Linked DNA regions of Homo sapiens: region 2 is linked to region 1. Evidence: fine-mapped expression QTL. A gene starts in region 1. The other region holds a variant in brackets. All regions are shown on one strand. Distances are between the middles of the regions.

Evidence for each region.
Region 2: its variant is fine-mapped to the expression of CACHD1 in nasal epithelium (TOPMed, PIP 0.98).

Annotation. Positions count from the first base shown.
Region 1 is chr1:64,467,480-64,472,854 of GRCh38, forward strand. It overlaps CACHD1 (cache domain containing 1), which reads left to right and starts at 2,650. Exons shown (of 27, transcript NM_020925.4): 1 at 2,650-3,463. The coding sequence starts at 3,266. LOC107984966 (a long non-coding RNA gene) reads right to left here and starts at 2,546. Exons shown (of 2, transcript XR_001738100.2): 1 at 1,707-2,546; 2 at 794-891. RefSeq lists a silencer at 2,860-2,979 and an enhancer at 4,779-5,375.
Region 2 is chr1:64,318,132-64,323,506 of GRCh38, forward strand. No RefSeq gene overlaps it. Among named protein-coding and RNA genes, the nearest start is that of UBE2U, 120 kb to the left of the region's middle. The variant A/T (reference allele first, on the strand shown) is at 2,025.

The DNA of each region.
Region 1 (5,375 bases):
AGACCTGGAATAGAGCACAGGATTTGCAGTTTATTAAGTGTCCTGAGGCTAGTGTGTTTGGTGGATCACACTTTGAGAAACAAGGTGGAGAAATCAAAGCTTTCAAGTGGAAAATCACAATGTTGCTTGTTAAGCGCTGAGGGGACATTAAGTGCTGAGAGAAGAACCAAGAGCTTTGGAGCACCAAAGAGGAGCCGTAAACTCTGTGGGGGTAGGTGTCACAGAAATGACACCTCAGCTGAATAGGGGACCTAGCAAGTGGAGAGAAGGGGAAGAATTTTGAGGCTGCCATATAGGTGTTTTCTGGGAGTGGTGAGGCAACTGAGGGGCACAGTGGCTACAAAAAGGCCAGAAGAGCAAACAGGGTCAGAGCACAAAGGGCCTTGTTTGTTAAGTTTACTTATCTGTGATGGGGCATCAGAAATGTTTAGATTAGTGAATGACAAGTTGAGATTTGACTTTTAGAAAGTTGATTTTGACTTCCATGTGAAGAACAGAATGAGGGGGAACAGAGAGACTGCACAGAGACCCATGAGGAGACTGGTCATAATACAGGCAAGCTGCAATGAGGAACTGAAGTCAGGCCATAGGATGCAGATGGACAGCGGGGGATGGACACGGGAGATATGTTGGGAGCTGGGGTGGATGGAGAGTGCGTACCTAGCTTGCAGAGTGGGTGACATCCACCTAGATTTGCAGCCAGACATGGATTTAGGTGGAACATGGGGGAAAGCAGTAATGAGTTTTCATTCAGGTATATCTACTAGAGAAGTCAGGAACTTGCTAGAAAAAATGGAGATCCAGGTTGAGCTTTATTTAGAAGTATGATAAACTCGTGTTTGGTAATAATTGAAGGCATAGATGTGGTCGAGAGTCCTCAAAAAGAAGAACCTTAGAGTGAAAAAAAGGTGACATTGGATTAGCATCCCAAGAAATAGGACCTCAAGAAATACCAACATATAAAAGATGGGCAATAAATGCCTATTGTGAAGGCATTTCAGAAGGAGTTTAGAGATGTGTGACACCTTGGTGATGGTAACCTTGAAGAATCAAATAAAAAAATAATGCTATATGTCATTATTATTTTTGTTCTTTACTCTTCCACTAATCACATGGACTAATATGCTTTCTCTTGCGGAGTGTCATGTCAAAGGTACAACAATTTAAAAAACGGAAGTTAAAGGATCATCTTTCTAACAAATGTCAGCTCAACTCCAGGAATAGAAGACATACAGGTAGGTTTTTACCTCATTATTAACTCAAGAATCATTTTTCCAGTACTACTATGTGCTTGTGTGGATGATGTGGAGGTGAAGGGATTGGTCCCCACACTCAACATGCTTGCCTTAGTATGTAAAACAAACATCACAGGCTAGGCGCAGTGGCTCATGCCTGTAATCTCAGCACTTTGGGAGGCCGAGGCAGGTGGATCACCTGAGGTCAGGAGTTTGAAACCAGCCTGGCCAACATGGCGAAACCCTGTCTCTACTAAAAATACAAAAATTAGCAGGGGAGTTGAGAATGGAGAAGTGATCTCAATGAGGTAAAAATGGGCCAGGGAGAGCTTACAAGAGAAGATGACTTTTTAATACAATATAGTCAAAGATGTAAAACAGAAGGTTTTGCTGTAAAATGAAAAGAGTCCTAAATCCAGGTTCTAATCCTGCTACCACCTCTGCTAGGTAACCCTGGACTAGTCCTTTAACCTTCCAGTGTTGGCTCTGTTCTCCAGGAACCTGCAAGCAGCAACCACACAGGGCTTGGAAGGGAGAGTGGCTGTTCTCCACACACAGCAGGTTGACTTGTTCCAGGTGCTTCCAACAGGTGATTTCTCAGCGAGCCTGAGCCAGTAGTCAGGGACAAACAGGAAGGTTAACCTTGCCTCTCCATGCTTGGGAGAACAGGTGTGTGCGCGGTGGACTCCGGTTCAGTCGTTCTTTTTCTTTTTTCTTGCTTTTGATGGGATCAGATGGTTCATTTCCAAAGAGAGACAGAGAGAACTGTATCGTATTTAGGAGCAATAGCCTTGGAGTAAGACTTGTGCTTAAACTCTGGATTTGTTTCTTATCCCCTGGGTGACCTCTGGCAATTTATTCCACCTCTCTAAGCCTCAGTCTTTGTTACCTAAAAAATTGGGATAAAGATACGTACCTCCTATGGCATGTCGCGGAGATTAAAGGATAATGTGCACACCCCCGAGCCCAGTGCCGGGCACACGGTGGCTGGTTGCAACAGAAATCTGTGGGTGGAACGCTAGCTAGCCATTGTGATGAATAACATCAAGGAGAGGGAGTGGACCTACACATGGCAGTCCCCTTCTTCCCCAACCGCTGCCAGGCAGACAGCCAGCGTCCTAGAACTTAAAGGACTTTTCGATGGCTGGAACCTGGGCCGGGTGGGCTCCCTGGCGCGGACGGAGGCGGGGAGCGCTGGCGGGGGTCTCCGTCTCCAGCCACGGGAAGGTCCGTGGGCTCCCCTGCCCGGGCTGGGCCGGTCCCCGAGCAGAGAGAGAGGCTGGTCCCCCGGCCCCCGGCGTCCCGGGGGGCAGGTTCTGAGGCGGGAGCCAGGGAGAGAGAGGAGGGGCAACCGGGGGAATTTCCCCGCCTCTCTTGCTGGTTCCATAAATCACCGCAGCCGCCGCGGCGGCCCAGCCGGGAAGTGCACAGAGCCGGAGCGCAGCGTGGTGGCACCAGACGCCTCCCTTTCCCCACCGCTTGCTTTCTTTCTTTCAGTTGTGTGGGTTTGTGAAGCCTCCCCTTTCCCTCCTCGCTCGGGTGGCTGCCCCAGTCTCGCAGCCCGGCCGCCGCTCCTCTTCCCCGGGGGCCGCCGTCAGTCCTCGCCGCCGCCTGCTCGCTGCGCTGGGACTCGCAGGAAGCGAGAGCCGCGCGGCTCGGCTCGGGCTCCGACTCCGACTCCGATTCCGACTGTCAGCCCCGGGGCCCGCGCACCCCGGCCTGCGGGCGCCCCTGCTCTCGGAGACGCCCTCTGCGCCGCGGGGCCCGTGTGGGCGCCGGGCTCCGGGGACCGCTCGGGCGGCCGCCTCCTACCCCCACCGCCGCGGAGCCCCGCGATGGTGGCCGCCCGCGCTCCCGCGCTGTAGCCGGGCGCCCCCTAAGTTTGGGAGCCTTCGCCACCGCGGCGCGGAGCAGAGCCTGCAACAGAGGAAGAAACTTTTGCGGGGTGCGCCGCGCTTTTGCGGGGGGCACCTCCCGCGGCCCGCTTCCCCGCGCCCGGAGCCCGTCGGCGGGGAGTGGGGGGAGGCAGCATGGCCCGCCAGCCGGAGGAAGAGGAGACGGCCGTGGCCCGGGCGCGGCGGCCGCCCCTCTGGCTGCTCTGCCTGGTCGCGTGCTGGCTCCTGGGCGCCGGGGCCGAAGCCGACTTCTCCATCCTGGACGAGGCGCAAGTGCTGGCGAGCCAGATGCGGAGGCTGGCGGCCGAGGAGCTGGGGGTCGTCACCATGCAGGTAAGTGGCCCCCGAGCTGGCCAGACATCCCGCCTTTCTCCTTTGCTCAAACTCCCATCCCACTCCCGGTACAAGTCCCCTGGACTGTGTGCATCGGCTCCTTGCATACATAGAGCCCGGCTTCCCGTCGGACCCCTCTGTCCTCTGCACAGACCCCCTGACAATACACCAACTCTTCTTCCATGCATTCGTCTACCCCTGCCCTTCTCTGGAGAATCCCCTGCCCTCTGCACGGAACCCACTTGACCCTGCACAGCCCCCCTCTTCTGAGTACCAGCGCCTTCATCTCGTCAAGGATTCTCCAGTTTCCTCGCACGTCTTCTCTAATTTGCACACATTTCCCATGTAGGCTTGTTTTCACCCTGCCACGCCTGCAAACTCCCCCTTTGTGTCCCCATCCCAGAGCAGCCAGCCCCGTCTGGCTCGGACGATTTTCCGAAGTCCCCACCCCACCCCCTTGACCGCGTCCTCGCGTCCTCGCGTCCTCCCTACCGAGGCGCACCAATGGGCGCCGGGAGGGAAGGCGCCGCAGAGTACGCAGCTGCCCCGGGGACACCTAGGTCCCGGCGGAGAGCGGCCCTCCGAGTGGGCTCCGCGCTCCTTTCCCCTCCCGGGAGCATGGGGGGAGGGGCTGGCCTGGTAGATTCTGGGTAGACTCCCGACTCTAATCCTGCTGGGGGACTCTTTTTGTTGCTTTCCGCATATCCTGCTGTAGTTTGCGTGCTGTCTGCTGTATGATTTTTGTTTCGTGTGTGCCTTTTTGGGTCGAAGAAAAAGGGAGCAAAGTGAATAAGGTTCCCATTTCTCCAGATTGTTTATCATGTCCGTCCTCCTCGGGAGAGGAAGGAGGGCTGACAGAAAAACTGCCCGCAGCTAGTAAGGAATCCTGATGATGTTACTCACGACCAACAGTAGTAAAAATTGCTGAACACCAACCACCTGGAGATTCTGCCCCGCTGTTATTTTAATCCACTTGGCCATAAAGGCCCACTAGATTAGGAGAGGTTGAGATGACATTCCCAGCTTGAAACCTTTGCTATAACATTCTTAGATAAAATAACACCATTCTCTTACACATTCTAACAATCATGGGGATGAATGTGGTCTTCGAAAGATTGAAGTTTCCAAGAATGCGTTCTTGGAATAGGTTTCTGATTTCCATCCTACTGTGACCACTCCTTCCACCTCCCACCGGGAGAGGTGTTTAAGTCACTTTTGGGATTTAGGTTTCTTACTTCTTTCTTCTTCGTCGCGTCGTCCTCCTCGTCTTCTCCTTCTCTTCTTTCTTCCTTCTTCTTCCTCCTCCTCCTCCTTCTCGTTCTTCTCCTCCTCTTTCTTTTCTTTTTCCTTCTTCCTTCCTCTTCTTTCCACTTCCCCACACCAATCTCCTCCCAAGAGGTTACAATTTTCTTGAGGAAAGTTCCACAGACCTTCTCTACTGTGGGGAAAGACCACCGGAATTTTTTAAAGGGTGACATGAGGACTGAGGAGTGGATGGATTTTGAAAGGTAATTTTGCATTTATTTGCAGACACCCAGCCCTGAAGTGCAATGGAGTTGGGTTTTCTTGATTTGCATAATAATAGATAAGCTTTTAAGATGCATCATTCAACTATGCCGATCTTTCAGGTTCAGATTCAGTTGCAATTTTTTCCATATGCATTTTCTGATTTCTGATTATTGCTGAGTTCTTAGGAGTGAAGTGACTTTTAGAAAAGATAGAAAACTAGGATTAAAAAAACAGTGGTGAATATTTCCATTCAGAGCACAATTGTATTTTTGCATTGAGGCACCTCTTTTAATAAAGGAAACTTAATATATTGGAGTTGTGGACTCTGCTTGTAGGATTTGTAGGCACTTGCCACCTTCACTCCATCCCTAGGGCTGGACAAGAAATCTTAGGATTCCCCCCT
Region 2 (5,375 bases), 150 kb before region 1:
TTAAATCCAAATGTGTATAACAAACACATTACTTTAAGTTAGAATGTGTTAAAAATTAATACAAATTGCAAAAGTTATTTCTACAAATGCTTGGACTTGATTGAGAAAACATCGAGTTCCCATATCAAAAACTAAGGACACCGAAATGGGTGGCTTTGGGGGTGCTGAAGACCAGGATGTAGCCCTCTCAGAAGTGTGGCCCTGAATTCCTGCTCTCCTTGGGGGCAGCATGGTGCTTCTCCAAGACTGCCCGAGATGTGCGTGATGGAGTGTCTGTTCCCAAAGCAAAGGACAGGAACAGAGAAGTGTGTGAGTATGTTTGCTCCGGAAACAGTAAGGGAAAAAATCATGAAGTGAGTTGAAATATTTCATCTGTGATTAATCACTGGGAAAAAAACATTTTCCAATAATTAGACCAAGTTAATGGGCCTAGCAAAGCCCACAGTCTCTGCTCTTCATCTGTTAGTTATAAATGGAGCCACAGAAGCCTCCGGGGCTGGAGCCGGGGCCCAAGAAAAGCCTCAGTGTTTACATTATTGTTTTAATATTTGGCAAAAAAAAAAGTATCTAAATCTTTGGTCATCATTCAGATGTTAGCATTCAGAGCCTTTATAGACTCAGCACTTGTTTTTATTTCCTGTCCTCCAATTTAAACAGAGACAGCAGGAAGGAGGCTGTTGACAAGATGATGGTTATGCCAACTCCAAGCCTAGTGTTCTCCTGGGGCCTGCCAGGCCACCCCCACTGTAGCCCTTCACCTGGGGTCCTGCATCTCGGCCTTTCTCTCTAACCTTCTAGACCCTTCCTTGAATTCATGTCTCTTACTCTTCTCTTCCTCCTCATGTTTCCCCTCCCAATTGGGCTAGTCACATGTCATCATGTATGTTGAAGTATTTTGTGATTGGTATTGAATAAAAAGAGCCCCCACCTCTTAAGTATCTCCTGGGTATTTTATAGGTTTTACTTAATTTAATTCTCACCACAAGCCTACAAGGAAGATTCTATTATCTCCATCCCAGTGAGAAATCTTTATCCTGGTCAGGAGGCTAAACAACTTCCCCAAAGTCACAGATCAGACATTCACACCTAGGTTTCTAGAATTCTAAAACTCATGATCATACTGATTGACTTATGCTGTTGTTGTCACTATGAATAATAATTACTGTTAATAGTTAATGTTATTAAAGACAAGACTAATAATTCTTTTGAAGATCTTAACTATCTGTCACGTGAATTGTTAGCCCTCCAAAGAATATCGTATCATAATAAGCAAATGCAAGTTCCCTTTAAGATTAGCCATAAGAATCTGAGTGTCAATCCCTACACCAGATAATGTCTTTTGACGGTCAGTATGTTCCCCATCACTGTCTTTTGTACCACAGACACTGAAAACCTAGAAATTAGATTTCCCAGAGTCCCTTCCAGCAGGGGCTCTGCCAATGAGAGATATTCAGATGACATTTGGAAGATGAATAAGGGGAAGACGTTGTTTTCTGGAGGCAGCTGCGGGGTTTCTAGGTACCATCCTGAGAATCATCACTAGGTGCTGCGGGTAGCCTAGGTCCTGGTAGCGGCTTTGCCAGGATTCCTGGTAAACAGATTCCTTGGTAGTGAGCAGCAGTCTTCCCAATCATTGCTCCCCAGCCCTTCCAAGGATTGTGTAAGCCTCTATCTCCTCATACTAAATTCGCTTCCAACCTGAAATGCCTACAGTAACTTCTATTTTCCTGACAACCATGACTGATACATTGCCCAAGGTAATGAATCATTAATAATAAAATTAAAGCAATAAAAAAATAAGATATATTGATTACCTACTATGTTCAAGACATTGTTTTTGATGTTTGAATAGCAACATTAATAAGAAAGAATCCTTTCCTTTGAAGAAGTTAATGTTTTTATGCTTCTAAAATATTCATTGAATAAATGAATACAAACAGTGAGAGAAAGAGAAATTTAGAAACTCTATTGTCCAGAACAATAGAATGAGTTTGGACTAGAGGGCAAGAAATAACTGGGATCAC[A/T]TCCTGGTTCTGCAATCCACTTACTGTTTAACTACGGACTGTCACTGCAGAGCCTCTTAACATATTTTCCTATCTTTAGTCTCACCCTGTGGAAGCTATGTGGGTTTCGGATTTGGGTGGACCAAGGTCAGCCACTCCTTAATGGTTATTGACATAGACTAATATTTTCCATCTGTAAAATAGGTTTTAAAGGCACCAAAATGAGCGCATAAAGACAGAAGTCAAAATTGTTCAGTTTCCGTGCAGCAAAGCATTTAATGAATGTGGCCTATAATGAAAAGTTTTAATTCTTTCTTCAGGTCTTCCTCAAACATTTAAGGATCTCTGTGACGGCTGGCCTCCAAGGCCCCCAGTGATTCTCACTTCCTGGTATTCATACTCTTATATAGGTCCCTTCCCCCAACACCAGAGAGGTCTGACTTGTGTTACTAGTTGGATATTGCTAAAATGACTGTGTGTGACTTCTGACATTGCCACATCCATCTTGCTATTTCCTGGATTACTCAATCTGGGCGCGGGGGGGTGGGGGGATGCAAGTTACCATGCCATGAGGATGCTCAGTGGAGAGATCCACGTGGTGGGGAACTGAGGCCTCTTGCCCACAGCCATGTGGGTAGGTCATCATGAAAGTGGCTCTTGTCAGCCTAGTCAAGCCTGGCCAATACCTCACTGCATGATGGACTCTGAGCCAGAACCTCCCAGCTAAGCTACTACCAAACCCCTGACCCACTGAAACTGTGTGAGATAAATATTTATATTATTTTAGGCCAAGTTTTGCAATACTTAGGTGCATATAATGAATACAGGGTCCAAAAATTCAGTTCACAGAAATGCATTAAATCACTTGCCCTGTCCTCTGCTCTAGCACTCCATTCTTGGGAGCCTCTTACCCTTCCGTCCTAACAGAACCTTCTCACCAGCTTTCCCTGTTGCAGCTGGTTATACTCGCATCCCCTTTAACCTCACCACAGCGACTCCCACATGACAAGTGCCTGAGAAGTCACGTCTTCTCACAGAGAACAGCCTGTCCAGGGATTATATTTCTTCTGTTTTTGTTGCTTTTCCCCTAAAAAAAAATCTGTTTCTGCCACTTTCATCTTTTCTATACTTAGAGACGTTGGGGGGTGGGGGGGGGGGGTGGTGCGGCAGGGGATAGAGAGTGGAGAATGACGCCAAGTGGACTAAGGAGGAGTGACAGCTGTGAAGTGGTTTATCCATGACAGAATACATCAGGTCATTGTAGGAATTAACAGTGGCTTATCCATTACAGAACACATCGGGTCATTGTAAGAACTAAACAGGGTGGTGCGTTTACCATGCCCGGTAGCGTGTCTGACAAACAGTCTGTCTTAGTTCCTTCCTGTCTCACCAGGCCCTATCACCTCTCTTACAGCCATACAGAACCACTTGGAGTTCACCTCCATCTTTCACATCTACTTGCATTGGGATTTTCTGTTCCCTCTGAAAGGAATGCTGTGTCTGTTCTTGACTATTTGGTTACCTCTTAGGCAATCTACAAAATCAGCTCAAGTTCTAACAGTTTTGGAAAGCCTTCTTTGACCTCCCCAGGACAATAATACTGTCCACCTCTCTGCTGTGTTCCCATTTCTCAATTATTAGCATTTTACCATTGCTATAATTACATTCTTACATGTTACCCGTTGACTGACCCAGGAGGACCTCAGGGGCAGGGAATATATTCTCATGTTTATAGCCTCTACTCCTAGCACAGAACTTTTCATAGAGGGGAGAGGTAGAGAAGATGATAAAGAAAGAGAGAAAGGAAGAGAAGGAGGTAGTAGATACTGGTTGGTTGCTCTCCAGCATCTGTTTCCCCTTCTCTCTCCAGCCTTCCCATGTCAGCCCTGCTGATTGAGTGTGATTGATGCCACCCCCAGGAGTGGGTTAGATTGGTCCAAAGAATTAGCCAGGCATGGTGGCAGGCGCCTGTAGTCCCAGCTACTTGGGAGGCTGAGGCAGGAGAATCACTTGAACTCGAGAGGTGGAGGTTGTAGTAAGCGGAGATCTCGCCATTGCACTCCAGCCTGGGCAACAGAGCAAGACTCCATCTCCAAAAAAAAAAAAAAAAGAAAAAGAAAAAAAAGGAAAGGAAAAAAAAAGCACAGTATTCCAATTTCCTTACTACCAATCGGTTCAGAGATGGGTATGTAAACCAGTCAGGGACTGGTTTACCTGAGTCTGCAGGTAAAGACAAGCCTCTTCCTTTTATGAAAGCTAACAGAGATCCTCTTCTCTTCCTACTGAATATGAATAAGGCAGAGGGTAGCCCTGGGAGCCGCTGGCACCATTTTGTACTTCAAAGGGAAACCTGTCTGAGAATGAAGCAAACATTTAGCAAGAAAAGACCAGAGATGGAGAGGGGAAAAAAACAACAACAACTACATCCTGATGAGATTGTCTGGGCTCTGAAACAATCCACACCTCTAAGTGCGAACCCAATGCTTTCAGATAAGAAAATTCTCTTATTATTAAAGCCAGTTTCAATTAAGTTTTCTACTACTGGGAACATAAAGAGTCCTAACTGATATAAGAAGAAATTAAAAAAAGAAGTTAAATTTTCTCATCTAAAATGTCTAAGAAATATAATTAGATATTTAAAGGAATAAATTTCATTTATCTGGGAAATTCACTTGTCTAGAATTTTTTTAATCCCCCAGTGATGTCCAATGAGAAAGACATGCTGTACCTATCTGTCCAACTAGATGGTAAGCCTGTTGAAGGCAGAAATTATTTCTTCATTCATTTATTCATTCAGCAAATATAGAGCATCTTCCAAAAGTTAGGTATAGAGCATCTTCTGAAAGTTAGGCACTGGGCTGACACAAAAAGAAGATAAGGTCTTTGTCAAGTGCAGGAGACAGACACATCTGCCCATCCTCTGTGGTGTCTGGGAGGGACACCGGGGTGGCAATTAAGATCAACAGATCGTTTCATGACTGCTTAAGTTACCAGGAATAGGAAGAGCAAAGAAGAGAACAGGAAATTGGGGCCTGGAAAGAATGCTAATTTGATCCAGGTTGAAGACACTGTAAAGGGAGTTATGAAAGAGAATGCCAGTTGAGAGACCTGGTCAGTTAGGAAAGAAGTGCATTCAGGGATCAGCTGAAGGAAAGGCTGACTCATTAGGAACTTGCCAAGAGAGTGAGAGAGCCCAGAAAGAAAGGACAGTGGGTTCCCAATGGTCAGAGTGAAGAAAGTGTTTGGGAAGCTGAGGTGGGTGGATCACCTGAGGTCAGGAATTCGAGACCAGCCTGACCAACATGGCAAAACCCCGTCTCTATTAAAAATACAAAAATTAGCTGGGCATGGTGGCACGCGCCTGTAATCCCG